4 linked regions of the Homo sapiens genome follow. The protein of the gene in region 2 interacts with the protein of the main gene of each other region in a biochemical or structural test. Each region holds a gene or a part of one and is shown on either strand. Other genes may lie near its edges.

Region 1 (7,397 bases), on a different chromosome or scaffold from region 2:
GTGTGGGAGAAAAGGAGCCGGGAAGCAGAGATACAGACAAATGGTTAATTTCACAGGTTTTGTATGTCACAGGTTTAGAGCACCTGGTCTCACTTCTGGGTTGACTCTTCAAATAAGAGAACCTGTAAAACTTATACTTCTTGTGGTTTTTCTATGTGAAGAACTGTCTCCAAAGGTTAGGCATTTCAGGGTAGTCTTCTATTTAGCTGAAGCAAATGACCCAGTTTCACTAGCATACTCGCAGGCCCAGCCTGAGTCATATCACGGGAGGCCAGTCATACAGCCAGCCCCAGCTGCATGCAGCCAACAATGAGCTGCATGGCTCTGCTCAAGACATTTGAGTGCCACATTGCACACGACAGCAAAGTTGGAGGAAATTTCACTTCTTCAGTTTTCTCAGACTTAGAACCAACCAAAAACCATTTTCTCTAAATACAGTTAGTCCTCCTAGAATCATTAGAGAAGCACACCTACTCTAAACTGTTAGAGCCCTGAAACCACAATTTGAGAAATTTCTAACAAGAAGAGGAGAAACAAAGAAATGGGACGAAAACAGATAATACTCATCTGTGGAATATGGAATATTGAGAAATACATGTATAATGACAAGGAGCACCACAAAATTAAATTTCCTTTTCAGTTTATCTTGTACTACTCATATATTTATAACCCCAGTTGATACTCTTTACATACAGATCAGAAACCCTGCACACACCTGCAGTCACTCACCCTACTCACACACAGCGCCAGCTAGCCATTCTTTCCTTCGACTCCATTTTATTTTACAGTCTGAGGCAAAAGAGATACAAGGGTTCTTCTGCTTCTTCCATCACTGTTACTTTAATAATTTCCTATCCTCAACAATCACAAATTTATATAGTTGTTCCTGTATCAGGAGTTTTAGAATTATGACAGTATTATTCCTCTTTGCATTTTTTTCTTCTTAATGAAATGCAAGTAACTATTAGCAGAGGCACAGATAAATGGTTAATTTCACGGGTTTTGTATTTCGCATGTATTTGTATTTAGCATGGTACTAACTTAATGAAATGCAACTAACTATTAGGTTGAGGGCAGAGGCTTTGCAATTGCCACAGGGAAAAATTAAAACTTCTTCTTCTCACCTGAAGACCAGAATAAGTCTAGAAATGTTAGAAATATCCATAAAACCCCTTTAGGTAACTATCTGCAGCTTTAGATCCATAGCATAACCACAGTGTTAACAGAATTAAGACCAATGAATTCAATTTAGGTAAGACCCCCTATTACCATCTTTACAACAGTTTATAAAGCAGAGAAATCCCATGATAAATTATTTTTACATTGTTTAGTCTCCAGATAATCTGTCAGTTCCAAGATGGAACATCAAATATTCTTTCCACATACCGTATATAGAATGAATACATAGGATGACTTGGCAAAATGGATTGAAAATCACCTGTTTAAAAGACTAGCAAGTAGTTCTTCAATCTTATTTTTAGCTTCAACTTCAGATGAACATTTTTTAAATGAATCTTCTTCACTAAAGGACTATCAAAGAAGCATAAATAAGGATTAGCACAAACTCAAATAACTATATCTAATTATTATCAGTGTACAGTCAAATAAATATTCAATACATTCTTCACTAACTTACCTCTTGTCCTTAGTTTGAGCCATTTAGTTCACTTTTATATTAACAGTTTTTTATCTGCAAGCTATTGTACTCACTAGAAAGTTAATATAAAATATTACTGTATTAACAGTTAATATAAAACAGTTAATATAAAATAATTCAAAGTTATGAAAACTCTAAAGCTCTAGTACCAACTCCAAGCTTTATTGTATGATTATGGCAAGAGTTCTTAATCACCTAGGACTTGAATCTAAGTTTATCCTTGGACAAGTTATTTAACCTTTCTAAAGTACGGTATCCTCATCTTGAGAGAGAGAGAATGGAAGGAAGGAAGGAAAGAAGAGAAGTAAGAAGGAATGGACAAACAACAGTACTACCTACCTTGATGCTTTGTTGTGAAGATTAAATGGACTAACATATTTAAAGCACTCAGTAAAGTGCTTGTCCCATAGCAAAAAAATCAGTCAATGTTAACTGGGTGATTATACCTTTCCCATTTGCTAAATCACTGGACTACTCTGAAAACAAGATTTTTAACAGATTAAAATATTTTGCCTCATATATGCATTATAGGCTATTAAAATTAAGTTGCACTGTCTTCAATCATAGTAGCTAACTTAAGATATCAAAATATCAATGCTTAAGATTCCATTTAAGAATACTTATTAATCCAATCTATTAATAATAAATCAGCCTTCTAATAGGAAAGGGATCACATACTAAGCAAACTAGAATAGTAAGAACATGGTACTAAAACTAGAAATCTTTATCTCAAATAATGTGATAACCAGTACTTAATTAAAATAAGTATCATCATGTACCTGAGGTGGTCCTGAGAGTATCACAGGGGAGTTATCCTCTCCAAAACTGAGCTTTTGGATACGCTGAGCAACTGAAATTCCTAATTCTTTTTCTAAAATTTTGGGTGAAAAGGTTTGGAGATCACGCACACTATTGATACCCAGTGCTTCAAGACATTTGGCAGTTTTATAGCCAATACCTAAATAAAAAGAAATGCATACAATGTTAAAATAGCTTTTCTCCTTAAAACAAAGCTAATTAAAATATTATAAATATATCAATCTTATCTTTAAGTTCTATAATTTATACAGTAGTCCCCCCTTATCCACAGGGGATACATTCTAAGACCTTCAGTGGATGCCTGAAACCATGGACAGTATCAAACCCTATATATACAGTACTGTTTTTCCCATTACATATATACCTATGATAAAGTTTAATTTATAAATTAGGCACAGTAAGAGATTAACAATAATAATAAAACAGAACTATAACAATATACAATATACAAGTTATGTGAATGTGGTCTCTGCCTCTCTCTCTCAAAATATCTTATTATTTTCAGACCACAGTTGACTGCAGGTAATAGAAACTGTGAAAAGTGAAACTGCAGATAATGGGGGACTACTGTATTTTGCAAAGATCAAACCCCATTGCAAACTAGGTTGCTGTTCTTCCACTCAGGGCTCCTGAATTATATGCACCTCTTTGAAGTCCTCACAAAATGCAGTAAAATAAAATGAATACAGAGACAGCCAATAAATGCTGTCTTACTAAAACAAAAATTTTACCACCTGTTATGTAATATTCCAGAAATATTCAGAAATCATGATTATTATTAATATACAAAAAGGCTGCCACTAGAGCAATTAAAATAAATTAAGTGTACATATTAGGTAACCTAACTGATTCCTATACGCACCACCACACATTTATCCATAAGTCATATCTAACATTTACCATCCAGAATACAACTATGAGCCAGAAAGCAAACAAACAAAAAATCTTGCTAGCAAAACTGTCACAAAGTTCTTGCACTAAAATTCGGTCATACTTTATTCACAAGAGAAAACAGGCTATTTAATGTCTCCTTATTCTTTTCATTCAAAAACAGTAATTCCACAGTTATCTGGTTTTCTTGCACAGTAAAAGCAGTAAGTTGGAGGAGATGGCTATGTAGGGGGAACTATTAAAGTAGAGTGACAGATTTTTCACAGCAGAAAAAAAAGAAGGTTGGCAATTTGGCAATAAGTGAGAAAGGAGAAAGCCTGTTAAAAAAAAAAAAAAAAGATACAAGAACTCGAAAGTAAAGCCAAGTAAGAATGTTTTGCACCAGTATATAGTCCTCAGTTTATTACAACCTGACATTGTTCTTCAGAATGCACTACCAAAGTCATCCAAAAAACTTCAAATTATAGTTATACTATACTAAGGAAGGCAAGGCAGTGTATAATACATTTTGGAATCACGCAAGTATCAGTTAAAAATGTGAAGTATGACATCTAAGTTTCAGTGGTATTAGAAATTCACTTCCACAGAACTCTTTTATAACATCTTATTCCCTAGCAATACCACAGAAATGTAGTTCAACATATTGATGGCCTATAAAAACTTGGGTATTTAATCTTCAAAGATACAAACTTGCCCCATGACCTAAATAGGTCACCGAACTCCTCATGGAAATCAGTTTCCTAATCTTTAAAATGAGGACCTTGGCCTAGATGTTTTGGAAAGTCCATTGTAGCCTTAATATTTTATATGTAATCCCAAAAGAGTTAGTAAAAGACGAACTCCCCTCTCTAGAGGCAATGTACAGTATAAGAGTATGACCCAGGGACTGGAAATAAAGGACCATATGTTTCTAGGCTATAACTTTCATGACCATATTCTAACCATACAAAAGTAGATAAAATAAGAAAAGTACCTTCACATATTTCTTAATCCAAATTTGCTTGAGAAAACATTACAGTTTTTCTTAGTTTTTTCCAGGAACCAAGTATACACACACACACACATGCACACAAACTCACAGACAACTCTACCTAAGAATTAATTACATTGTATCTATAATTTTTTAAATTAAAAGAAATAAAATAAGACGTATATGTACTTTTCAAATATATTTGTCTTACCAGGTATTTCCTTTATGTGATTCAAACTATGAATAAGATGTTGACAACTTTCAGGTAATAAGACTGTTTGTTGATTTGGTTTAAAGACACCAGAAACTAATTTTGCCAACAGTTTATTAGAAGCCACTCCAGCACAGCCAGTGAGCCCCAACTGATTATACATGGCTTCCCGCATCTCTGCTGCAATCTGAGATCCAACAAGTAGTCTGATGTGCAAGACGTCAAGCAGGTTTATAGCTTTAAAAACAACAAATGTCATTCAAAGTCACAAGAAAAACCTTTTTCTTTTTCACAAAATAATTTTTAAAAGGTAGAGGGCTTAGTCTATATCCAACAACCACCACCACCACAACCACCACCATCATCACCTGGTATGGTTGTGATATTTGTCCCCTCCAAACCTCATGTTGTAATTTGATCCCCAGTGTTGGAGGTGGGGTCAAATGGGAGGTGTTGGGATCACAGGGGTGGATCCCTCATGAATAGATTAAAGCCCTCCCTCAGGGGTAAGTTTCTGACTGTATTAGTTCCAAAGACAGCTGGTTGTTAAAAGAGCCTGGCACCTCCCCCAGCCCTTGCTTCCTCTCTCACCATGTGATCTCTGCACACACTGGCTCCCTTTTGCCTTCCACCATGAGTGGAAACAGCCTGAGGCCCTCACCAGAGGCCTAACCTTGACTTTTCCAGCCACAAGAATCATGAACCAAATAAACCTTTTTTTCTTTATAAATTACCCAGTCTCAGGTATTCTGTTAAAGCAACACTAAATGGACTAAGAGATCACTGCCACCCTGTTATCCACTTGACTAATCTCTTTCATGCTTCATAGGAATACTGTAAACAAATTCAATAAGCAAATTCCAAGGGCCTGTGATAGTGACTGTGTAGTGGGAGTGCTTAATAATTAACACATTGTGAAAACTGATCTCATAAAAAAATTCCTACTGACATTGGCAAAACTTTTACTCATATTTACCCGTAAGTAGGCATAGAAGTATTATTATATAACAAGAAAGCTAACATTATACTTTAAAGATCTAAATCTTAACCACGCACTAGCAGTATATGCTGCTAGAAACAATCTCTGACCTGTACACAGTTTTAGAGCTCTTTTATGAAAAGTGTAAGAAAATTATATAAAAATAAATTTGCTTTAGGTGTAAAACAGTGTTGGAATGACATGAAACCATCCTAACCTCAAAGAGACTAACGCTAAAAGTATTTAGAGATGAAATGTCAGGATGTCTGCAATTTACTTCCAAATAGCTCATCAACCAACCAAGCAATCCATAGAGAGAACAAGAGAAAGCAAATGTGGCAAAACGATAACAACTGGTTTATCTACAAGAAAGGACATAATGGGCCAGGAGTAGTGGCTCATGCCTATAATCCCAGCACTTTGGGAGGCCAAGGCAAGCGGATCATCTGAGATTAGGAGTTCAAGACCAGCCTGGCCAACATGGTGAAACCCCGTCTCTACTAAAAATAAAAAAATTAGCCGGGTGTAGTGGCACATGCCTGTAGTCCCAGCTAGTCGGGAGGCTGAAGCAGGAGAATTGCTTGAACCCAGGAGGTGGAGGTTGCAGTGAGCCGAGATCACATCACTGCACTCCGGCCTGGGCGACAGAGTGAGACTCTGTCTCAAAAAAAAAAAAAAAAAAAGAAAAGACATAATGGGTATTTTTTGTACTATTCTGTCAACTTTTCTGTAGGTTTACAAAAAATTTTAATAAAATCTGTATGAAAGAGGAAGAATTAATCAATAATTCCACATTTCCCTTTTTGGGATATAAAACCTAGCTCTCTATAATGTACTCTAACCAATAAAATCCAAGTTTGCCTTAAAAATTATACAGAAATATATTTGAAATATTCTTGCTAGTTAGCCCTTTTAAGTTACAAATGAGCACAAGTACAAAAGATACAGGAAAAGCTCCATGTATTCTAGAAACTGTGGTTCTACTGCTTTTCTTCTGTGGAGAACTATTCTGTAGACCGATGTCTAGTTCTCAAAAAAGAGGATAAGAGGAAATGCATGGGGAGGCTTAAGAGCAAAAGGGTCAGACAAGTCTTACACAACAGCAGAGTACCTTGTCTTGTATGTGGTATGATAGGGGAGTCACCAGCAGAGTCATAAGATGTCTGAAAGCCTAATCAGATATTCACTGGTGCTTACTGCAGCTTATTTTCAAATGTAAATATCACTGGAAACACCATCAGTCATTCATATCTCAATATATGAAGGAGACAAACCATTCTGCTTTCTTGCTAACTTTGACAAAGATTATTTGAACAGATTAAATAGGAGCTTGGAGAAGATTCTAGCACATGGCAGATAGCCCTGGACAACATTCCAAAAGTGCTAACTTGGGAATTCAGAGAGCAACATGAGGGTCTCAGGGGAATCGAAGTGAACATGTAAAACACACATCAAAGGGGAATCGAAGGGAACATGTAAAAGACACATCAAAGGCAAATCTAGCCTACCTGAAAACTCTGCTTAGAGATTGTTTTAGAATAATAAAAAATTATTCCAAAAAGCATATTAAGAAGCCAACTCTTACAACTTAAGAATGACCTACAGAGGTATGGCTTTTTGTTTCCTTAAGAGATGGGATCTTGCTCTGTTGCCTAGGCTGGACTCAAACTCCTGGGTTCAAGCAATCTTCTCAGCTCAGTCTCCCAAACAGCTGGGACTACAGGGGCGCTCCACTGTGCCCAGCTGGGTATGGCTTTCTAAAATGGGAACCAATGCACTGTGTCAGACGAAAACTCTGCACAGATGAATGCTCTGTGCAGATGAACAGGAACAATGCTCTGTGCAAATGAAAAGTGCACAGAGCATTGAG
Region 2 (7,228 bases):
GACTTAAGGGTCTTATTTCTTTCTGTGTGGCCAGATTAAGCACTTAGAGTTGGATGGTGGTGGGGAACCAATACTTCTACCATAACAACATTTGCTGAGGGCTTACTATGGGAGAGACACTATGCTTGGCATTTGACATATACTCTATTAATTTCCCATTGCTGCTGAAACAAAGTCTCACAAGCTTGTTGGCTTAAAAGAACATGATTTTATTTTCTTACAGTTCCAGACATCAGAAGTCTGAAATCTGTTTCACTGGGCTAAAACTAAGGTATTGGCAGGCCCATATTCCTTCTGGAAGCTCTAGGGAAAAATCCATTTCTTTGCCCTTTCCAACTTCTAGAGGCTGATTACATTCCTTGGCTCATGGCCCCTTCCTCTATCTTCAAAGCCAGCAGTGTAGTCTCTTCTCTCCTCTCTGACCTGTTCCCATCCTTACATTTTGTCCCTCTGACCTTGATCCTCTGGCTTCCCTCTTATAAGGACCCTTGTGATGACATTGAGCCTTCCTGAATAATCCAGGAGAATCTCTCCACCTTGAGGTCCTTAACTTAACCACACCTGCAAAGTCCTTTTTACCATGTAAAGTAGTATATTCGCAGATTCTGGGGATTAGAATATGGACATCTTTTGGGGACTATTATTCAGCTTACCACAGACATCATCAAATTTAATCCTTGTACATTAATGCTCCAACAGAGGTGTTATGATTAGCTTCATTAAATAGACTTGGAAAGCACATAGCATATGACAGGCCCTCGATAAATGTTGATGGGGCTGATCTGGTGTGAGAGTTAGTTGACAACATATCCTCCTCCCTGGACAGCAGGCCTTGGAGGATGTGTCTAGTTCTGTGTCTTCCTCAAGTCTTCTTCCACAGTCCCCTCCACTGGGGACAGATAGAAACTCTGTCAGAGTGTATGACACTTAGACACTTAATTGTCTCACTTGGGGTCACTTTGTCTCCCCAGTGAGATCACAATCTCCTTCAGTGTAAAGACCAACTCTCATGTACTACTAATTATTTGGCCCTTTATACAGTGCCACGGGCTTTTGCAGATATTATTTTTTTCCTTTTAGTCCTTGCAAGGACTGTCCATTTTGCCGAAGAGCAAAGTGAGGCTCTGGCGAGATGCAGAGTCAGTTTTTGATGGTGCTGGTTGATGAATCCTGCCTTGCTCTGAACCCTTTATCTCATGGTACTCAGCATGAGGGGCTTTCTGCACCCTCAGCAGCCTCTCGCCCACTGACTCCCCTCTGCACTTGGCTGAATTTTCTTACCTCTTTAGCTTCCTCTTAGCCTTTTGATACTCTTACTGTGGCATGCTCATGTGCACGCACACACACACACACACACACACACACACACACAAAACTACCCCAGCCCCCCAGAACATTTCCAGCACTGGTGTCTTTACACAGCCCTTACCCACCCACCTCCATTTATATTTCATCTGCAAAATGCTCATCTGAGCCACTTCCCATTCTTTCTCCTGCACACACAGTCACCACTAGAATTGCACATCCCCCACAGCACAGCTCCCAGAGCCTTCATAGATGACACGGGATTCACCTAAGCTTGCTTTTTGTAGAAACACCTTGTGATCACCCTGGCAGTGATTATGAGCTTCAGGTCTGGAATCAGACTGCTGGCTAGACTAATCAGACTGGTTAGAATCCAGGATTTATCATGTGTCAATTGTGTGACTTTTGGAAAGTAGATTAATTCATGAACACCATTTCCTCCTCTGAAGTGAGGAATAATAACCGTGCTTTTCTCACCTCAGGGGCAGATGCTATTTTTTAGGCAAGATCTGCTTAGAGGTCCCAGTTTCTTATTGCTGCCCTTCTCTGCTGTAACTCTTCTCCCCTCATAGACAGCTCCACTCCTCCAGCCTGCTGCTTGTTGACACCAATTCTCTGGAAGGGGAGTGACATCAGTCATATATGCTTTAGGGGGGTATTTAAGCTGCTATGACTCTTCTCAGGGGCATTTCTCTCCAAAGTCTCACTTCTAATCACCAGGCCACCTGCTAATGATAATTAGATCATGGGTGGTCAGATGAAGGAGGCACTGGGAGAGGGGAAATCCCCATATCTCTGGTATCCCAGCAAATAGATAACCATCATTCCAGCCATCCTTTTGTTTTCTTTCTTTCTTTCTTTCTTTCTTTCCTTCTTTCTTTCTTTCTTTTTTCGCTCTCTGTCAACCAGGCTGGAGTGCAGTGGCGTGATCTCAGCTCACTGCAACCTCCACCTCCTGGGTTCAAGTGATTCTCCTTCCTCAGCCTCCCGAGTAGCTGGGACTACAGGCGCCTGCCACCATGCCCAGCTAATTTTTGGTAATTTTAGTAGAGACGGGGTTTCACCGTGGTCTCGATCTCCTGACCTCGTGATCCGACCGCCTCGGCCTCTCAAAGTGCTGGGATTACAGGCGTGAACCACCATGCCCAGCCTATCCTTTTGTTTTCCATCCTGTGTTGGCTTGGTGGGGGAGAGGAGGTGTTGACACGTGGAGGACACACATATAAGGCATTCTTGGGTGACTTCGTCATCACTGGACCCTATCTCTCAAAATTCCAGCGAAATCTGCTCTTCCCTTTAAGGAGTGAAAGAAGGGTCAGCATTCCAGAAGTTCCTGGTCATACCCAGGCTTTTAATGAATTGCCACTGGGGAATCAGCATCCCGTTGCTGTAAGGACTATAAGATGGCGGATTGTGAGAGCATAGGGAAAGGTCTCGGAGGTCTCTTGTCCTTGCTCCACGCAGGTCTTTCTGGCCTGAAAATCCCGTTGAAGAGAGCAGCTCTTGAGAGTTTGCTCCAAGTTCCCTCGGGGTGATCAGCACCACGGACAGCGGCCAGGGCGCCCCCGAGGACCCGCAGGCAGGCAGGGTGCACAGCGGCGAGCAGGTGCTGCGCTACGTGCGGGCCAGGGAACTCGCGCGGGGAGGGGAGAGGCGCCGCGGGTGGCGGGGTCTTGGCCGGGGCTGTTTTCGCTGTGAGTCACCCCGTGCTCCCCGCGCTCACGTCGGTCCTCGGAAAGCCGGGGTCCTCCCTGCCTTTTCCAGCAACGGTGGGGTGGGGAGGCAGGAAGAAAGCGCCAACCTAGGACACCTGGACATTTGCAGGAAAGGAAGAAGCGGGAGACGGGGACTTGTCTGTGTCTCCAGCGCGTTCCTGCCCCCCGGCCCGACCCGGCCCATTTCTATACAAGGTCGGCTCTGCCCGGTCTCCACCTCCCACGTCGCAGGCGCGGAGGGGCTCATTCCCGGGCCCTGATCTCAGAGGCCCGGAATGTGGCTGATAAATCAGAGATAACCCTGCATGGCAGGGCAGGCCCGACACTCAGCTCCAGGATAAAAGGCCACGGTGTCCCGAGGAGCCAGGAGGAGCACCCCGCAGGCTGAGGGCAGGTGGGAAGCAAACCCGGACGCATCGCAGCAGCAGCAGCAGCAGCAGAAGCAGCAGCAGCAGCCTCCGCAGTCCCTCCAGAGACATGGATCCCCAGACAGCACCTTCCCGGGCGCTCCTGCTCCTGCTCTTCTTGCATCTGGCTTTCCTGGGAGGTCGTTCCCACCCGCTGGGCAGCCCCGGTTCAGCCTCGGACTTGGAAACGTCCGGGTTACAGGTGAGAGCGGAGGGCAGCTCAGGGGGATTGGACAGCAGCAATGAAAGGGTCCTCACCTGCTGTCCCAAGAGGCCCTCATCTTTCCTTTGGAATTAGTGATAAAGGAATCAGAAAATGGAGAGACTGGGTGCCCTGACCCTGTACCCAAGGCAGTCGGTTCACTTGGGTGCCATGAAGGGCTGGTGAGCCCAGGGGTGGGTCCCTGAGGCTTGGACGCCCCCATTCATTGCAGGAGCAGCGCAACCATTTGCAGGGCAAACTGTCGGAGCTGCAGGTGGAGCAGACATCCCTGGAGCCCCTCCAGGAGAGCCCCCGTCCCACAGGTGTCTGGAAGTCCCGGGAGGTAGCCACCGAGGGCATCCGTGGGCACCGCAAAATGGTCCTCTACACCCTGCGGGCACCACGAAGCCCCAAGATGGTGCAAGGGTCTGGCTGCTTTGGGAGGAAGATGGACCGGATCAGCTCCTCCAGTGGCCTGGGCTGCAAAGGTAAGCACCCCCTGCCACCCCGGCCGCCTTCCCCCATTCCAGTGTGTGACACTGTTAGAGTCACTTTGGGGTTTGTTGTCTCTGGGAACCACACTCTTTGAGAAAAGGTCACCTGGACATCGCTTCCTCTTGTTAACAGCCTTCAGGGCCAAGGGGTGCCTTTGTGGAATTAGTAAATGTGGGCTTATTTCATTACCATGCCCACAATACCTTCTCCCCACCTCCTACTTCTTATCAAAGGGGCAGAATCTCCTTTGGGGGTCTGTTTATCATTTGGCAGCCCCCCAGTGGTGCAGAAAGAGAACCAAACATTTCCTCCTGGTTTCCTCTAAACTGTCTATAGTCTCAAAGGCAGAGAGCAGGATCACCAGAGCAATGATAATCCCCAATTTACAGATGAGGAAACTGAGGCTCAGAGAGTTGCATTAAGCCTCAAACGTCTGATGACTAACAGGGTGGTGGGTGGCACACGATGAGGTAAGCTCAGCCCCTGCCTCCATCTCCCACCCTAACCATCATCACCCTCTCTCTTTCCCTGACAGTGCTGAGGCGGCATTAAGAGGAAGTCCTGGCTGCAGACACCTGCTTCTGATTCCACAAGGGGCTTTTTCCTCAACCCTGTGGCCGCCTTTGAAGTGACTCATTTTTTTAATGTATTTATGTATTTATTTGATTGTTTTATATAAGATGGTTTCTTACCTTTGAGCACAAAATTTCCACGGTGAAATAAAGTCAACATTATAAGCTTTATCTTTTGAAACTGATTTGTCTTGGCGCATTAAAAATAATCCCTCATTTCAAAGAAACCAACCCAACTAAAACCACAAAGCCCTGTGATCTCAAGGCATCTTCATGGTGGGATGAGGATGTGGCCTCAGAGGTAGCAGGCTTTCTTTTCTTTCAGAGTTTTTAATGCTCTGAAATGTTATTGAATATCTCAAGCACTTGAGGCACTTGGGAGAAACTGCTTTTCAAAGCAGGGCAGGATACGTGTGCAACCTGAGGGCACGTATCCAGCCGTTTTCTCCACTCGTCCTTGCTCTGCCTGGAATTCCACCATTAAAGCACTCTCCCTGGGGATTATTGCTTTCAGGTCTCAGCTAAAATGTCAACGACTGGGGGCAGTGTGTGTGGGTGTGGCTCATCTACATTCCCATACCGGGGTGAGCCCTCCATCCTGCCCCAAATATCAGCTTTGAAACTCCAATTCCTGGGGTCATCCTGCAAAGGAGCCTTCAAAACTCCAACCCACAAAGTGAGAGGGGTCTGGCAATCAGCCCAGCTTTCCAGGGTGCCCCTCCCCTGGGGCTGCATCATCTCTTCTCTTTGCCTTAACCAGTGGGGAGGCTGTCTCTCCTATGGGTCCCCTTCCCACACACCCTGCAATCCAGGCCTCCGCAGTGCTGAGTTCCTCTCCTTTCAGATTCCTGGGAAGGGCCTCATGTCATTCGCTTTCTCACAATGCCATTTATAATTCCAGCTCAGCTGAGGGGTAAGGCACCATGAGGTCCACTATTATTATGTCCATTTTCCAAATGGGAAAACTGAGACCCGGGAAAACTGAGACCCTGGAAAACCAAGCGTCCTATCCAAGAGCACACAGCGACTAAGCGCTGGTGTGGGAACTGAGCGGAGATCCAGGTGACTCTTGAGCCTGTGCTCTCTGACTCTTGAGCCCCACACTCCTGCCCTTGAACTTCACTCTCAAGTCTTTTCTGATGTTCTCATCAGATGTTTCTTTGAATGAGAGTGACCTAGAGGGTGGAACTTTGTGTTATTTATCATTTTCACCCAGTGTGCATCTGAGGATTTATGGATATCTAATGACATCAATTAAGATTGTTTAGACTGGGTGCGGTGGCTCACACCTGTAATCCCAGCACTTTGGAAGGCCGAGGCCAGAGGATCACCTGAGGTCAGGAGTTCGAGACCAGCCTGGCCAACATGGTGAAATCCCCTTTCTACTAAAAATACAAAAATTAGCCGGGCATGGTGGTGTGTGCCTGTAATTCCAGCTATTCAGGAGGCTGAGGCAGGGGAATCGCTTGAATCTGAGAGGTGGAGGTTGCAGTGAGCTAAGATTGCACCACTGCATTCCAGCCTGGGTAACAAGAGTGAAACTCCATAATCTCAAAAAAAAAAAATTGTTCAAAAACGAGGTTTTAGGCCAGGGACAGTGGCTCACACTGTAATCCCAGCACTTTGAAAGGCCGAGGCAGAAGGACGGCTTGAGCCCAGGAGTTCAAGACCAACCTGGGCAACATAATGGGACCCCCATATCTTCAAGAAATGAAAATGAAAAAAATTATCTGGGTGTAGTGGTGCATGCCTGTGGTCCCAGCTACTCAGGAGGCTGAGGTGGGAGGATCGCTTAAGCCTGGAAGCGGGGAGGCTGCAGTGAGCTGTGATTGTGCCACTGTACTCCAGCTTGGGTGACAGAGGGAGACCCCATCTCAAAAAACAAACGAACAAAAAAAGAGAATAAAAGAAATAAAAAAGAGGTTTTAGGGGCAGCTTATTTTTCCACCAACTGTGAGTCATGTCTAATGCTTCCAAACCGGGGAGAGCAATGAGTAATTAGAATAGTTAATATTCATAAAGGCCTCATTCATGTACCAGGCACAGTCATATAGACCTCACAACAATGAAGGAGTTAAATTTCTTTTTTTTTTTTTTTTTGAGACAGGTCTCACTCTGTCATCCAGGTTGAAGTGCAGCGGTGCAATCTCGGCTCACTGCAACCTCTGACTCCCGGGTTCAAGCGATTCTCTCGCCTCAACCTCCTGAGTAGCTGGGAGTACAGACATGCACCACCACCCTCAGCTAATTTTTGTATTTTTTGTAGAGATGGGGTTTCATCATGTTGGCCAGGCTGGTCTCGAACTCCTGGCCTCAAGTGATCCACCCGCCTCGGCCTCCCAAAGTGCTGGGATTACAGGCTTGAGCCACTGCTCCTGGCCTGGAGTTAAAACTCTTACATCCCTCTTTTTACAGATGGGGAAACCAAGGCACAGAGATATATAACTTGTCAATGTCATGTAGTTAGCAAGTGGCAGAGCCAAGATTCGAGGACCCGTACCCCTAACCACTGTCCCACCCAGCTTTTTCCAA
Region 3 (7,397 bases), on a different chromosome or scaffold from region 2:
GTAAAGCAATACTGTCACAATTCGAGGGAAAATTATTTCCAACCTAGAATACTATAACTATGTGTAAAGGTATGATGAAAATTTTTCAATCACAAAACCTCTCAAAATTTAGGCCTTATTCATCCTTTCTCAGAAAGCTCTTGGAGGATGTGGTCCAACAAAACAAAAACATAATGAAAAAAGAGAAACACACAGGGATCTAGCTCAACAGAGAGGTGATGGAAGTCCCAGGAAGATGTTGAAGAACCCAGAGTGGCAATTGTGCAAAATACCTAGAAAATAACTGGGATGCAAGGCAGGTTCAACATACGCAAATCAATAAATGTAATTGATCACAAAAACAGAACCAACAACAAAAACTGCATGATTATCTCAATAGATGCAGAAAAGGCCTTCGATAAAATTCAACAGCCTTTCATGCTAAAAACTCTCAATAAACTAGGTATTGATGGAATGTATCTCAAAATACTAAGAGCTATTTATGACAAACCCATAGCCAATAGCATACTGAATGGGCAAAAACTGGAAGCAGTTTTTCCCTTTGAAAACTGGCACAAGACAAGGATGCCCTCTCTCACCACTCCTATTCAACATAGTGTTGGAAGTTCTGGCCAGGGCAATCAGGCAGGAGAAAGAAATAAAGGGTATTCAATTAGGAAATGAGGAAATCAAATTGTCCCTGTTTGCAGATGACATGACTGTATATTTAGAAAACCCCATTGTCTCAGCCCAAAATCTCCTTAAGCTGATAAGCAACTTCAGCAAAGTCTCAGGATACAAAATCAATGTGCAAAAATCACAAGCATTCCTATACAACATTAACAGACAAACAGAGAGCCAAATCATAAGTGAACTCCCATTCACAATTTCTACAAAGAGAATAAAATACCTAGGAATCCAACTTACAAGGGATGTGAAGGACCTCTTCAGCAACTACAAACCACTGCTCAATGAAAATAAAATAAAATAAAATAGGACACAAACAAATGAAAGAATATTCCATGCTCATGGATAGGAAGAATCAATATCATGAAAATGGCCATATTGCCCAAAGTAATTTATAGATTCAATGCCATCCCCATCAAGCTACAAATGACTTTCTTCACAGAATTGGAAAAAACTACTTTAAAGTTCATATGGAACCAAAAAAGAGCTGGCATTGCCAAGACAATCCTAAGCATAAAGAACAAAGTTATAGGCATCATGCTACCTGACTTCAAACTATACTACAAGGCTACAGTAACCAAAACAGCATGGCACCAGTACCAAAACAAATATATAGACCAATGGAACAGAACAGAGGCCTCAGAAACAATGCCACACATCTACAACCATCTGATGAAATGAGAAATGGGGAAAGAATTCCCTATTTAATAAATGGTGCTGGGAAAATTGACTAGCCATAAGTAGAAAGCTGAAACTAGATCCCTTTCTTACACCTTATACAAAAATTAATTCAAGATGGATTAAAGACTTAAATGTTAAACCTAAAACCATAAAAAACCCTAGAAGAAGACTTAGGCAATACCTTTCAGGACGTAGGCATGGGCAAGGACTTCATGACTGAAACACCAAAGGCAATGGCAACAAAAGCCAAAATAGATAAATGGGACCTAATTAAACTAAAGAGCTTCTGCACAGCAAAAGAAACTACCATCAGAGTGAACAGGCAACCTAGAGAATGGGAGAAAATTTTTGCAATCTACCCATCTGACAAAGAGTTAATATCCAGAATCTACAAAGAACTCAAACAAATTTGCAAGAAAAAAACAAACAATCCCATCAGAAAGTAGGCAAAGGATATGAACAGACACTTCTCAAAGGAAGACATTTATGCAGCCAACAGACACATGAAAAAATGCTCATCATCACTGGTCATCAGAGAAATACAAATCAAAAACACAATGAGATACCATCTCATGCCAGTTAGAATGGCAATCATTAAAAAGTCAGGAAACAACAGATGCTGGAGAGGATGTGGAGAAATAGGAACACTTTTACACTGTTGGTGGGAGTGTAAATTATAGTTCAACCATTGTGGAAGACAGTGTGGCAATTCCTCAAGGATCTAGAACTAGAATTCTCATTTGACCCAGCAATCCCATTACTGGGTATATACCCAAAGGATTATAAATCATGCTACTATAAAGACACATGCACACGTATATTTATTGCGGCACTATTCACAATAGGAAAGACTTGGAACCAACTCAAATGTCCATCAGTGACAGACTGGATTAAGAAAATGTGGCACATATACATCATGGAATACTATGCAGCCACAAAAAGGCTGAGTTCATGTCCTTTGCAGGGAAATGGATGAAGCTGGAAACCATCATTCTCAGCAAACTATCGCAAGGACAGAAAACCAAAAACCACATGTTCTCACTCATAGGTGGGAACTGAACAATGAGATCACTTGGACACAGGGCGGGAAACATCACACACCGGGGCCTGTCAGGGGGTGGGGGGTGGGGGGGTTGGGGGATGGATAGCATTAGGAGAAATACCCAATGTAAATGATGACTTGATGGGTACAGCAAACCAACATGGCACATGTATACCTATGTATCAAACCTGCACGTTGTGCACATGTACCCTAGAACTTAAAGTATAATAATAAAAAAACACTCAGGAGATTTAAAATAAAGAATTAGAAGATTATTTAATTATAAATCCATAGGAAATTAAGCAAATAAACAAAAACAGACTGTTTTAACTCCAAGGAAAATAGGTAGGGGGAAAAAAGGAAATGTCAACATAGAAGCCTATGTGACTTAACCTTAAATATCATTTAGAAAGTAATGATAATATTTATACTGAATACTGAACTAACTAAAAAATATTGTGTAAGAGATGGGGTCTAGCTATGTTGCCCAGGCTGGAATGCAGTGGCTATTCAAATAGGGCAATCCATAGCCTCAAACTCTTGGACTCAAGCAATCCTCCTGCCTCAGCCTACTGAGAAAAATTTTGGCACAACCATATTGGAAAGATGACTGGAAAGAAAGCTTGCATGTGTGGTTAACAGGCAGTAGAATGATCAAGAAGAGAATTTTCTTCCACTGGGATTCCAACAGATAAGACCTAAAACTGAAAAAAAAAAAAGTAGCATGTTATTAAGAGATATGAAGGTCAATACCTACAGGAAGAGCTAACAAGAATTGAGAGTGAAAAATGGAGAGTAGGAGACAGGAACCTTTTTCTCCTCATAAACCTTGTGTAGTTTTCTCACTTTCTATAGCTGTAGAACTAAATTTTGGTAAAATGTAAATCTAACTTTTTTCAAAAAAGATTTCTCTCTGGCTGTTTCTACACTCCATAGCAATGGATATTGTTTGCAAAATGGAGATTGCATCTTTATTTCTGTTGTTCATAAAGCTCCATCTACTCCAAAGGCCTTTAGAATTTCCACAGTGCAGCCTACAAAGCTCCTTTTTTCCCCTGCTGTGTTAGTTATTTTACACTTATCATGGGTTCTTTCCTTAAAAATGCTGCTGATTGACCACTCGGTCATTTACCCCAGACTAATTCTAAAAATAAATGTTTCTTGTATTGATTAAATACTGTTATCTCTATCTCTACAGACTGTATAATGTTGTACAGTCATTATGCAGGCCCAGATTAATGACATACTAATAACTAAAAGGATAAAACTACAGTTCTTCACATAAAAACATTTGCGTTAGGATACTTCTAGTTCTGCATCATATAAAGTGCATCGACAAAACAACTACTGGCTTGTATTGCTTGAAAAAATTATTTCTAAGCCTGTCTTTTTAAAACTAAATTTATTGTTAAGTGTGTGGAATATTGAGGGCAGTAGCTGGCTGTGTAAGTGAATCTATTTTAAATAAAGATAATTGTTTTTAAAAATAATATAGGCTCAGGTCTGTTTATTTTAGTGGCATTAGCGAAAGACATGACAGGAAAAAAAAAGATTTTAAATTATTGACTTAGATGGTAAATCCTTAAAATGAAGGAATAATTGATGCCCCTGTTTTTCTTTCTACAGTATGCCATGTGAAATTTTAGTCGCATTATTATTTGAGATGCTGGCACGGTCAGTTTTTTACTTGTTCAAACATTTGTGATTTGGTTTTAAAGAGAAACTTAAGTCCAAAAAAAAAGTAATACCAATGTTCTCACCAAAAGAGGGAGGAACTCTCTCTACTTTAATTCATAATACTTAATAGGGAATTTTCAAAAGCAAAAATACTGTCAGTTGCATTTTCACACTTGGGTGAGAATATCAGTTTGAAGAGGCCTGATTCTCACCCCACACATTGTTTCACAGAGAAGAAAACTCACATAAGGAGGCCAGCCAAATCCAGAGGCATCTGCATCTCAGCCCAGGGTTCTTTCCCATGGCATGGCCTCACCCTTGGGGTAAAGGTGATTATCATCATATATAAAATAATAACTACAATGAAACCGCACATTTATTGAGCACTTCATATTCTTCTGGCAGTGCTCCCAGGCATTCCTGGGTTAGCTTCTGTAACCCTCACAGTTTCCCAAAGACGTGGGTGCTCTGACTACCCCCACTTTACCTAAGGAGCTCGAGGTACAGAGGTTTCATAGCAGTCCAAGATCCCCCAGCCGGTGACTGAGCCAGAAACTTCACTGCAATCATGTACCGAAGCCCTATTTAATACATTAAGTGCTTACGGTAAAGTAACTGTGTTACTTCAATGTATTTTTAAAAGGTCCCCTAAGAGAGCTTTGTTATCAAGTAACTTTTTCTCTCGAGTGTAAGGAATTTCGGGGTGGAAGGATGATTAGAGGCGATTGGAGGACGATTAGAGGAGAAACTGTTTTGTTTCCTATTTCTAAATATCTGCCAGGTCACTGTTGGAAATACTTTTTAGAGTAAGAATTGTAAAATCCTAACCTTATCACTTGTAAAATATACAGGTCAGTTAAGCAAACTTTCACCCCTCAATGCAAACTTGGAAAAAAAAAAAAAAAGCAAAGAGACTTCGGAACGTCTATGAGGCTTTTGGAATTAAAAAATAATTCTTACAGCCGACTGCAGCCCTAGTCCTCAGAAGCCCGGGGCGCACCAGTCCCCAGGCCCACCAGGGCACTGCTGTCCGCCCAGCCCCAGGCCTCAGCCACCACTGTGAGGGCGAGGGGCCCCGGGGCCGCGATCTGCCCTCCTCTGGTCTCACACATGCCCTTGGTTTTGTATCCCAGGCCACGTGCGCCGGGGCAGCCGCTGACATTGGGATCTACAGGGTAGTGACATTACGGACGAGTCAGCAAACCGCGGATCTCGCCCATAGGGGGACACACCCCCAGTCCCAGCCGGCCTTGGGAAGTCTCTGACTTCTAGCGCCTAGCCCTCGAAAGCCGAGAACTGGAGAAGCAGGTTCCGGGAGCCTTAGCAGCCCGGGGCGCAGACACCCCCGTGGAGGCTGCAGTAACCTGGCGACTGGGACTTGGGAGTGTAGATGTGGGTTCCTTGCCGAGGCGTGGCAGGCGTGGCAAGTCCGCAGCCGTTGGACACACGTGCCCTTTTTCATAATCGGCAAAGCCTGCGCCCCGCCTGCTTGGCTGGTAGGAATTCGGCACAGACAGCCTGGAGTTCCAGAGCTCAAAATTTGGCCATGCATTCCCACTGTCAAACACCTCTCGCCTCTTTGCTCTAAAGGGTGAGTCCGAGGTGGCCAAGATGGCAAGGCGGTGACAGCAGCGCCATTATCGATGGCTTCTCTGTCCACTCTCACCTGTTCCTGGGGCCTTCGGCCTCAGGTTGCGCTGTCCCCTACGACCAGCGCCCAGGTGCTCGGCCATGCCAAGTTGTGGACTAGCCCGGCGCCTGGCTCAACTCCGCTCCCCTTCGGTCTCATCCGCGTGGCACTGGGGTCTCGGGGAGCTTTGCCGGGATTGCACCACTCACATTCCAGGCGCGTGAGCGCCAAGGGGGAGCAGAGACGGGATTCCCTCATCGCAGTGCTCCTAATCCCTGACTAGAGGGAGGAGGGATCGGCGCTATACCGGCATCTCAGTCCGCCTTCCCTCAGATTCTACCCTACCGTAAAATGGGCCACACTGGCGATTACACGTCCGCGTCCCCCCGCTCCCCGAAGCCATAGCCACCATCCTCAGCCTCGAGCTCTTTGTCCAGTTTGGGTTTTATTCCAACACCCAAAGACCCATGGAGAAAACTTGGGGGACAGGTGGAAAGAAGGTTCAGCGCTCGTTTCTTCAAAAGGCACTCCCGCAAAGCTTAGCTCTGGGCGCATTAGAAACTGCGTTGCAGAACACTCTGGGAGAAGTGAGTGTCGCCAGAATTCAGACACACAGGGGCATTTTTGGTGGAAACCACAGAAGCTCGTTTATAAGGGGCTGGAAGGGAAATGAAAGGAATGAGAAGAGTGAGTCAACAAGCCTTTAAAAGAAACCTGGGGTCTGTGGAAACAACAGTCAGAGAAACCCCAAGAGCGGGCGAGCTAAGTGGCGACGCCTCGCTGCGAGGCGTCCGCGGACGCTTCCGCACTAAGTGGGGGCGCACGCTGGCAAAGGACTGGGGAACAAGTTCTTTCCGCCTCGGATGCTTCAGACCCTGGATGGAGCCAGGCACTGGGAGTGCGCCCCCTAATCACCAGCCCGGCGCTGGCAAAGTGGAAACTGGGAAGAAAAAACATCGAAGTGTTTGACAGCACCTGTTGGACCTGGGCACGCAGGAGCTACAGACGCCCTCTCCTCCAACCCCTTCACCTCCCTGGGACCCTCTACGTACACCGCGATGGGCGGTCGTCAAAGGTTGTCGCAGCCACACGGCGCATACCTGAACGAGTGCCCGCGCGCACCCGACCTCAGCGCCGCAGTGGGGAGTGGGGTCTGCAGAGTGGACGAGTGTGCAGGGAGAGCCGCGGAGAGCGGTTGGGTTAGGGCCCGGGGCCCGGGACGCGCCCCTGCTCACCTCTCTCACTGGCCTGGATATTGCGCACGATGTCTTCCAGATCCAAGTCTTTGGTCTCGTCGAAACTGTAGATGGACGTGTGCAAACCCTCCTCCTGGAAGACCTCGTGGACCCCCTCGAGGGTGAAGTAGCAGTTCCGCTCCAGCTTGTCGTCGCTGTAGACCAGTGCAGCGCGGCTCCAGTGGTGGTGGCGGAACAGGGCGAGCATCATCTCGCCCATCTTGGCGTAGGCGGGCGCCACGCGCGTGAGGTGCGAGTACTCAGAGTCCTTGTGCTGGAAGCCAGCGGCCAGCGCCCCAGCCGACAGCATGGGCAGGTCCCAGTGCGATGCAAGCCGGGCCACTGGCGCTGCTGCATACTCGCACACTGGCCCCAGGATAAGGTCTGGCTTGGCGCCCCGCGCCGCCGCCACGCGGTCCACCAAGCTGAAGAGCGCACGGTTCCCACAGTCTGAATCCTCGTAAGC
Region 4 (7,397 bases), on a different chromosome or scaffold from region 2:
GAGATGAGGTCACAGCTGCCAAGCCTCTCCCCAGACAGCAGCTGAGGGAGAGCACAGCAACCTGCCACCCAGGCCGAGGCACAAAGAAAGCCGGGCGCCTCCTTGCTGGGAGCTCTGCGCCAATCCTGTCTTAGTTTTGATGAACAAATCCTGTGAACATGGAAAACCAGGTACCTACATCCCAGCTCCTGTATGAAGGCAGAGCCCAGCCCTGTGCTGCCAGCACTGGGGGAAACCAGAGCTACCCGGCCAGGCTCCGATCTGTCCTGCCTTTAGGAATCAGGCTGGGCGTGGTGGCTCATGCCTGTAATCCCAGCACTTGGGGAGGCTGAGGCGGGTGGATCACCTGAGGTAAGGAGTTCGAGACCAGCCTGGCCAAAATGGTGAAACCCCATCTCTCCAAAAAAACAAACAAACAAAACAAACAAACAAACAAAAAATTAGCCAGGCGTGATGGTGGGTGCCTGTAATCCCAGCTACTTGGGAGGCTGAGGCAGAATAATTGCTTGAGCCCAGGAGGCGGAGGCTGTAGTGAGCTGAGATGGCACCACTGCACTCTAGCCTGGGCAACAGAGTGAGACTCTGTCTCACACACACACACACAAAAGGAATCAGAGCCAGGAGGGAGCAGAGAAGAAGGAAGCCCTGAGACAGTGGGAGGAGCTGCAGCAGGAGCTGGAGCAGGAGCCAGCACCCACAGGCCCCCAGTCTGCTGCTGACCAAATTCAGCTGGGATTGCCGTGGGCCCCACGCGGTTAAGTGGTTAATAAGCAATCCTCCCCGACGCGGGCTGGAGGTGCCCCGCCTTATGTTTACCTCGGCAAATTGCTCCGTGTACTACGACGTTTCCCTGATAAGGGGTTCTGCCTATTACTCTCCAGAGAGAACAGAAAATAAGTGTTTCTAATAATCATCTCATGCTTGGAATATAACAAGCCTCTTTTTCTCAAAGTAAAGGCTGATCTATGAGAAACTAGCCCTAAAAATTATTAATGTAAATAGTTTCCCATTTCTTATCAGCCTAATAATAGCACACTGAATTTCAGATCTTCATCAACTTACAAGGCCCGACCACAGGAAGAGGCCCCCACCCTGGGCCTGTCGGACAGGACCTGTGGACGAGTGTTCACCATGAAGCACCGTGTGTGTGCCAGAGAGGCCCGGGGCTTTCTCTCTCTGTCTTTGCCAAGCGTTAGTTCTGCTGGGCTTTGTAGTGTTTAGTGCCCGGGGTGCTAATTAAGAAGGCCCAGAAATTAGAGACAGGCCCCCCTCTGAACAAGAAGGAGAAATAGCACCCAATGCCAGCCACTGGGGGAAGCTCGGTGGAGAAGGGCTCCTGACCCAGAAGCCTCTGGAGACCACTGAGCACTGATCCCGTGTGTGGCAGGCTTGGGTCTAGGTGCTCCAGGTACAAGGCCCCACACTGATTCATTCAGTGGCAAGCATTTAAGAACTGTAGCTGAGAATTAAGGGGAACAGTTTACTGCAGGGCGTCCTGCTCCTGGCTTCCAAGGTGCTGCTGGGGGTGGAGATGCAGCGTCTGGCCACACAGCTGGCAGTCAGGAAGCTGGGGAGGTGCTCAACGGCACGGCCGGCATGGAGTCCAGAGAGAAGGGAGGGAACGAGCCAGTGGCTCCTGCAGCCGAGGCAGCAGCTCTGCTGCTGGAGGATAGAATCAAATCCTACAGAGCTGTGGTTCCTCGGACTGGCTTCCTGCCTACAGGGAGGAAGCCACTTTCCTGAGGGCACTCTAGCTGCAGATACGGGGCTCCAGCTGGCTGCCCAAATGCCTTAGGTATTTCTGCTGACTCAGAAGTTTAATGTTTCAATGGAAATTAACCAGTCATTCACTGGCCTTCTTCATCAGTCTCCTGTGAGTTTGGTTACTGGGTGTCAGTGCCCTGAAGCCTTACTGGCTCTGGGTGCCACAATCGCACCCGTCTGTCTGGATCTGCAGGGCTGCTCATTAGCACCTCTGGGTCACAAAAGGTCTTGACTTCTGATCAGGCCCTGCCTGCCTTTTTGATCAATTAATACCTCTAGTTCCTTCACTTCTTTAAAAAGCATGCTGTATCTCACTAACACATGGATTCTGTGTTCATTTACAGCCTACAGACAGGAAGGAAATCCATTCTCTGGGGCCTGCGCATGGCTGGAAAGCAGTTACGTAACCACCCACAGGGGGCAAACATCTCGTATCCCTAGGAACGGCTGGGACAAAATGGAAGCCACATCAACCTCCCTCACTGGCCAGGACAAGACAGGTGAGACACTGGACAGTGACCGCGCAAGGATGCCCTGCAGCCCCCGTGATCACCACAGAAGATGCCACCTGGGGACCGAGGGTGGCTGTGCGTGCCAGCCTTCTGGTGCCCTCCCCGCCTGCGGTCACCTGTCTGAAGAGCAGCTCCTGCTCACTGGGCTGGCGCTGGCCCGGCTCCACCTCCCGTGGGGGCTCTGCCTCTTCCTCATCGCTCTCAATGGGCTCCTGCTTCACCTGCACGCCGGCCTGTGCGTGCGCCTCCTTCTGCCCCGGCAGCCGGTCCAGGTAGGGCTCGTCCAGCAGAGCCTGGTGCTCACGGAGCTCCTCCTCCGTCTCCTCCGGGTGGCTCTCCGGCTGCCGGGCTGGCTCGCTTGGCTTGGGGATGATCTGCAAGGCGGAGGTAACACATGAAGCACAGAGAGCTGGGTCCTCTGAGCTCATCTGACAGGAGAAGGGATGCTGCAAACCCCACCCTCTGGGGCAGACAATCAGGGACTCAGGGCACCTTATCACCCTGCCACAGGCCAGCAGGCACCTTTATCTCCCAACAGGCACTGGGGTGCCTGAGTGCCTAAGAAAATAATGCCCAGTAGGACCCCAGCCCAGGGTCAAGGTGACCTGGCCCAGGGAAGGAGGCTGACTAACATTTGGGGTTTACTAAGCACCTCTTCTGTGTCAGGCACCGAGAAACAGAAAAGAAGCTGCAGGTGTCAACAGAGTCTGCAGAGGAGAGCTTGAGTGTGAAGGGGAGAGGCCAATGCTGACCTCACAGCCACAACTGCTAAGAGAAACAGCCCACCACCCACTCAGCGGAAGACAACCACGTCCACAATGCTCACTGCCCAATCCCACCAACACGCCACGGCCTCCCCTCCTGCAGGATCCCACCGATGTGCCATGACCTCCCTCCTGCCGGATCCTGGGAACACTCCAGGACCTCCCTTCCTGCTGAATCCCAGGGATGCCACGGCCTCCCCTTCTGCAGGATCTCAGGGACACCATGACCTCCTTTCTTGCAGGATTCCATGGGTGCTCCATGACCTGCCCCGCTATGGGGCCCCAAGAACCGCAACATCCTCCCTCCTGTGGGACTCCCTAGATGCCCCCGACCTCTTTTCCTGTTGGATCTCACGGACGCTTCTCGGTCTCCCTCCCCGGCCTCTCAGTGCGGAACAGGCGGCAGGTGCTCCTCTCCTGCTCCCCGCCTGCTCCTCCGTCTTGGTTTGTCCTGGGCCTGCTCCTCGGCTCATTTCCCCATTCTGGATTCCAAGTATCAGCGACTCCCAAAGGTGGTGCTGAGCCCAAACTCGCTCTTTACCTCCAGACCTAATGGCCTGCCAGACGCCTCAGCTTAGCCTAGAGTGCCCATGAGCCCCAGCACAGCAGGTCCAATGCCGAACGCAGGGCAGCTTCTTCCAAGCCTCTCCCTTCTCTAGGACCTGTTCTTGGCTATTGGGACCTCTCTCTGGCCAGCTGTCCAGTCACACCCCAAGCTCCCAATTCTGTCCGCCAAGCACTGCCCATGCATTGCTCACGAGAAACGCCTCTGGACGGTGCTGCTTCTCTCCAGCCTCGACCTCCTGCCTTTCCTGCTTTGCCCCACCTGGCCTCTCCTGCCTGGATGACAGCATGGCTCCTGGGAGGCCCCCACCTCCAGCGTCAACGCTTTGCAATCTTCTTCATGTAGCAGTGAGGGCACGCTTTCAAACGGGCCAGTGGACCTGGTCACTCCCCTGCTGAATGTCCCCCAAGTGCTCTTCTGCCATCCTGCCTCTGCTGAAGAGCCCCTCCATCGTGTGGCCATGTTGCCCCTGCAGCCTCCCTGCCACCCTGCTCCCGACCACGCCGCTGGCTCTGCATCCCTCATGCCACACTCGCCTCCAGCCCGCTGCTTGCCTTCCTTCCTCGGCCTCCAGCCACTCCAAGAGGCTTTGTGAGCCTCCCGTGCATGTCACCTTTTCCAGGGTCAGCTGATCTTCCTGATAGGGCAATGTGCCCTCCTCCAGCACCCCCCGACCCCAGTCCTCTGGCTTTTCTGTGGTTGCCATTCATGTATCCATCTTTCCTGCAGTCTGCAGTTCCCAGGAGGGTAGGGACCACTTCTGACTCATCCACGTGGCACAGGCATTGCTCATCGCACATTCACTAAAAGGATGGGGCAAATGCAAGGGGTGTCCGCGTAGTGGGGCAAAGTGGAACAGGGTGTATGGCTGACCTCAATGCGCTCTGGGAGCTGTGGGAAGCCAGCAGGGCTGCAGCGTGGAAGGCCAGAGAACAGGAACACAGGGTGCCGGAGACGAGGTGGGGCTGTGGGAAGGGCACTCTGGGCTGAAAACAAGCAGGTGCACGTTCTAGAAGCATGCCCTGCTGCAGACAGGCCAGAGGTTGAAAGGGTGAGGCCAGCCCCACGTCTGGCTAAGGCATGGGAGAAAGAACAGGTTTCCATGACACCAAAAAGGAAGCAGCTCTAGGCCCAGGGACAGACTGCATATGGAGAGGCAAGAGAGGGTGGCCAGGACAACTCCTTCGTTTTGGGCAATGGAGCTGCCCCATCACATCTGGGAGCCAGAAAAGGGATGAATGTGAGCAGAGCAAAGGCTGGAGTTGAGAACAAGAGGGGAGAGAGGGATGCGGGAAGTGGCAAAAAAAAAAAAAAAAAAAAAAGCTCAGGAGAGAGGGCGGGGGTCTGGAGTTAGACTAGGAAGGGCGCACAGGGAGTTTCTCAGAAGAAGGCACTGACTGAGCTGCATTCCTCTGCAGACTGTGAAAGAACGTCCCACAATCCCAAAGTCCCAGATCGAGGGGTCTCTCCGGATGCTCGATTCATCTGTCCCCGTGGGGAACGGCCTGAAGGGCAGATTCGAGGGACGGTGGGACAAGCCGAGTTCCTGGCAGAGAGAGGAGCTACAGCGCGTGGAGGATGGATCTCGGCACCGCATCCGACTGTTTCCAGAAGGAAACTGAGGTGTGCAAGGAAGACTGACACCTGAAATCCCCCGAGCCCTTGCATTTCAACACCCTTAGAGCACTGCATGCTGCTCCACACTCACGCGAGGCGGCCTCTCCAGCAGCCTGAACTACGGGGCACGGGTTGGTGGGCACTCAGTGTCCGCTTGCTCCCAGGGGTCAGCCGTATCAGACGACACCGGTCCCCACGCAGCAGGGCTGAGACGCAGACTCACACACACACAACATGGTGAGTTTTCAGCCTCCAGAGCCCTGCTGTGCCTCACTGTGGAACATCAGAGACTTCAGATTGGGCGGGGGGTTTGTTTTATGATTGATCATCCCTTAACTTTCTTTCTAAGAGCAGTTTAAAGTACGGCAGTAAAAGCCGAGTGAAGAAAACGCAGATCCATTGTTTATCTCTAAACCGAAGGCAGCTTTTCTTCAGAAAAGCTTTCAACCTGGCACAGGGAAATGGAGCCAGGTCCAGCCGGGTGCAGGCAGCGTGGGTGTCGGGGCGGGCCGGCCATCGGCAGTGTGGGAACCAGTAGGCGGCGTGGCACGTAAGGAACTCAGCTTCAGAAAGCCAAACTCGCAGGGAGGAGAGTGCAGCGGTGGGTGGCCGCGCGTCGGGAACAGGAACGTGCTGTCCACGGGTGAGCGTGCCGTTGGGAGAGGAATAAGTTCCGGGACCTGATGCACAGTTTGGTGGCCCCGATATTCACGGACCTTACCACAGACACAATGAGAGCCCCGTGAGGCCAAGGGGGCATGGATGAGGTCCCTTGTGGCGATCATTTCACAACGCATACAAGTATCAAATCATCACGCCGTACGCTGTAAATACATGCGACTGTTTCCGGTTAGACTTTCACAAAGCCGGGGAGAAACAAGTTCAACTAAGGAATCTAGCAACATTGTCCCCATTTGCTCTGACAGGTTTCTCAGTGGTTGACCAAAAAAAGCATGTGTTTCAACACTAGTTTCACTTGATGATTTTGAGGTCTGTGATTGCTTCTGGTTTCTCAGTCCCATCTTCTTCCTGCACACTGAGAGCCTGAGAGGCCCTGTGGGGGGCAGGGAGAACAGGGAGCCTGGCGGTACCGCTGTCGCTGTGAGCAGGGGTGCCAGGTGCAGCAGGGGCGCCGGGTGAAGCAGCGCTGTTTCACAGGGGACCTCGAAGATGGCATCCAAGTCTTGGCTTTCAGGACACTCATCAAGAGGGCACCCATACGCTCAGTTCCTGCAGCTCCCCCAGGGCCCGGTGCAGTCTGATGTGTAACGGGATGTGACTGACTGAGTGGTGTATGGGAGGTTTCTTGAGAGCGGGGCCCTTATCACTCGGTGCACCGGAGGGAGAGCAAAGAACAAAGAATCTGAAAGCAGAACAATTCCCTAAGAAGGTGGCACAGAGCGCTGAGGACAATGCCCTGGATGAGGAGCAGGAGGGATTCGGGAGGAGGGAGAGCAGCAGCCAGGACGGGCCTTCAGGAAGCAAGAATGTCCTGGAGGCTGCAGGTGTGGAAGGAAAAGCAACAGGCTAAGGATGAGGAGACAGGGCTCAGACCACAGGCTGAGGACATGGGGACAGGAGCTCAGGGCTAAGGGTGCGGGGACCAGAGCTCAGGGCTGAGGGCGCGGGGACCAGAGCTCAGAGCTGAGGGTGTGGGGACCAGAGCTAAGGGCTGAGGGCGCGGGAACTGGAGCTAAGGGGAACGGAGCTCAGGGCTGAGAACGCAGAGATGGGAGCTCAGAGCTCAGGGCTGAGGGTGCGGGGACCAGACCTAAGGGCTGAGGACACGGAGATGGGAGCTCAGGGCTGAGGAGGTGTTCAGGGCCTCAGAGGGCTCCTCACAATGTGGGCTTTGCTCATCAGTGGATGGGCAGGAGAGGCTGCGGGTCTCTCCGAGGGGTGCATGGTCCTGCCTGTGCCACAGGAAGGTGCTAATGAGTCAGCGCGAGGGCAGGGGAATGCCTGCAGAGAAGCGACTGCACAGAGGCAGCAGGGCCGGGCAGAGGCTGGCACAGAGGCTGGGTCCAGCGGCAGTGGGGACCACCCGTGGACAGGAGAGTGAGCAGGAGGCACCAGGACTCCTGGCCAAGTGCCAGAGAAGGCAGTGGGGACCACCCGTGGACAGGAGAGTGAGCAGGAGGCACCAGGACTCCTGGCCAAGTGCCAGAGAAGGGC

The links.
Region 1: the proteins of NPPB (region 2) and POLI form a complex in vitro, tested with the Homo sapiens proteins (one large-scale study listed by BioGRID).
Region 3: the proteins of NPPB (region 2) and NPR3 form a complex in vitro, tested with the Homo sapiens proteins (4 studies listed by BioGRID, with this or other methods).
Region 4: the proteins of NPPB (region 2) and HDAC4 form a complex in vitro, tested with the Homo sapiens proteins (one study listed by BioGRID).

What each region holds. Positions count from the first base shown.
Region 1 is NC_000018.10:54,278,055-54,285,451, reverse strand, and holds part of POLI (DNA polymerase iota isoform a (long)), read right to left. Parts: intron 4,786-7,397; coding exon 4,549-4,785; intron 2,616-4,548; coding exon 2,437-2,615; intron 1,710-2,436; exon of another isoform or gene 1,637-1,709; intron 1,531-1,636; coding exon 1,439-1,530; intron 1-1,438. UniProt on the Homo sapiens protein: Error-prone DNA polymerase specifically involved in DNA repair. Plays an important role in translesion synthesis, where the normal high-fidelity DNA polymerases cannot proceed and DNA synthesis stalls. Favors Hoogsteen base-pairing in the active site.
Region 2 is NC_000001.11:11,855,103-11,862,330, reverse strand, and holds NPPB (natriuretic peptides B preproprotein), read left to right. Parts: upstream 1-3,385; 5' UTR 3,386-3,497; coding exon 3,498-3,629; intron 3,630-3,861; coding exon 3,862-4,117; intron 4,118-4,659; coding exon 4,660-4,676; 3' UTR 4,677-4,867; downstream 4,868-7,228.
Region 3 is NC_000005.10:32,712,080-32,719,476, reverse strand, and holds part of NPR3 (atrial natriuretic peptide receptor 3 isoform 1 precursor), read right to left. Parts: coding exon 6,932-7,397; intron 1-6,931. UniProt on the Homo sapiens protein: Receptor for the natriuretic peptide hormones, binding with similar affinities atrial natriuretic peptide NPPA/ANP, brain natriuretic peptide NPPB/BNP, and C-type natriuretic peptide NPPC/CNP.
Region 4 is NC_000002.12:239,112,661-239,120,057, forward strand, and holds part of HDAC4 (histone deacetylase 4), read right to left. Parts: intron 2,651-7,397; coding exon 2,393-2,650; intron 1-2,392. UniProt on the Homo sapiens protein: Responsible for the deacetylation of lysine residues on the N-terminal part of the core histones (H2A, H2B, H3 and H4).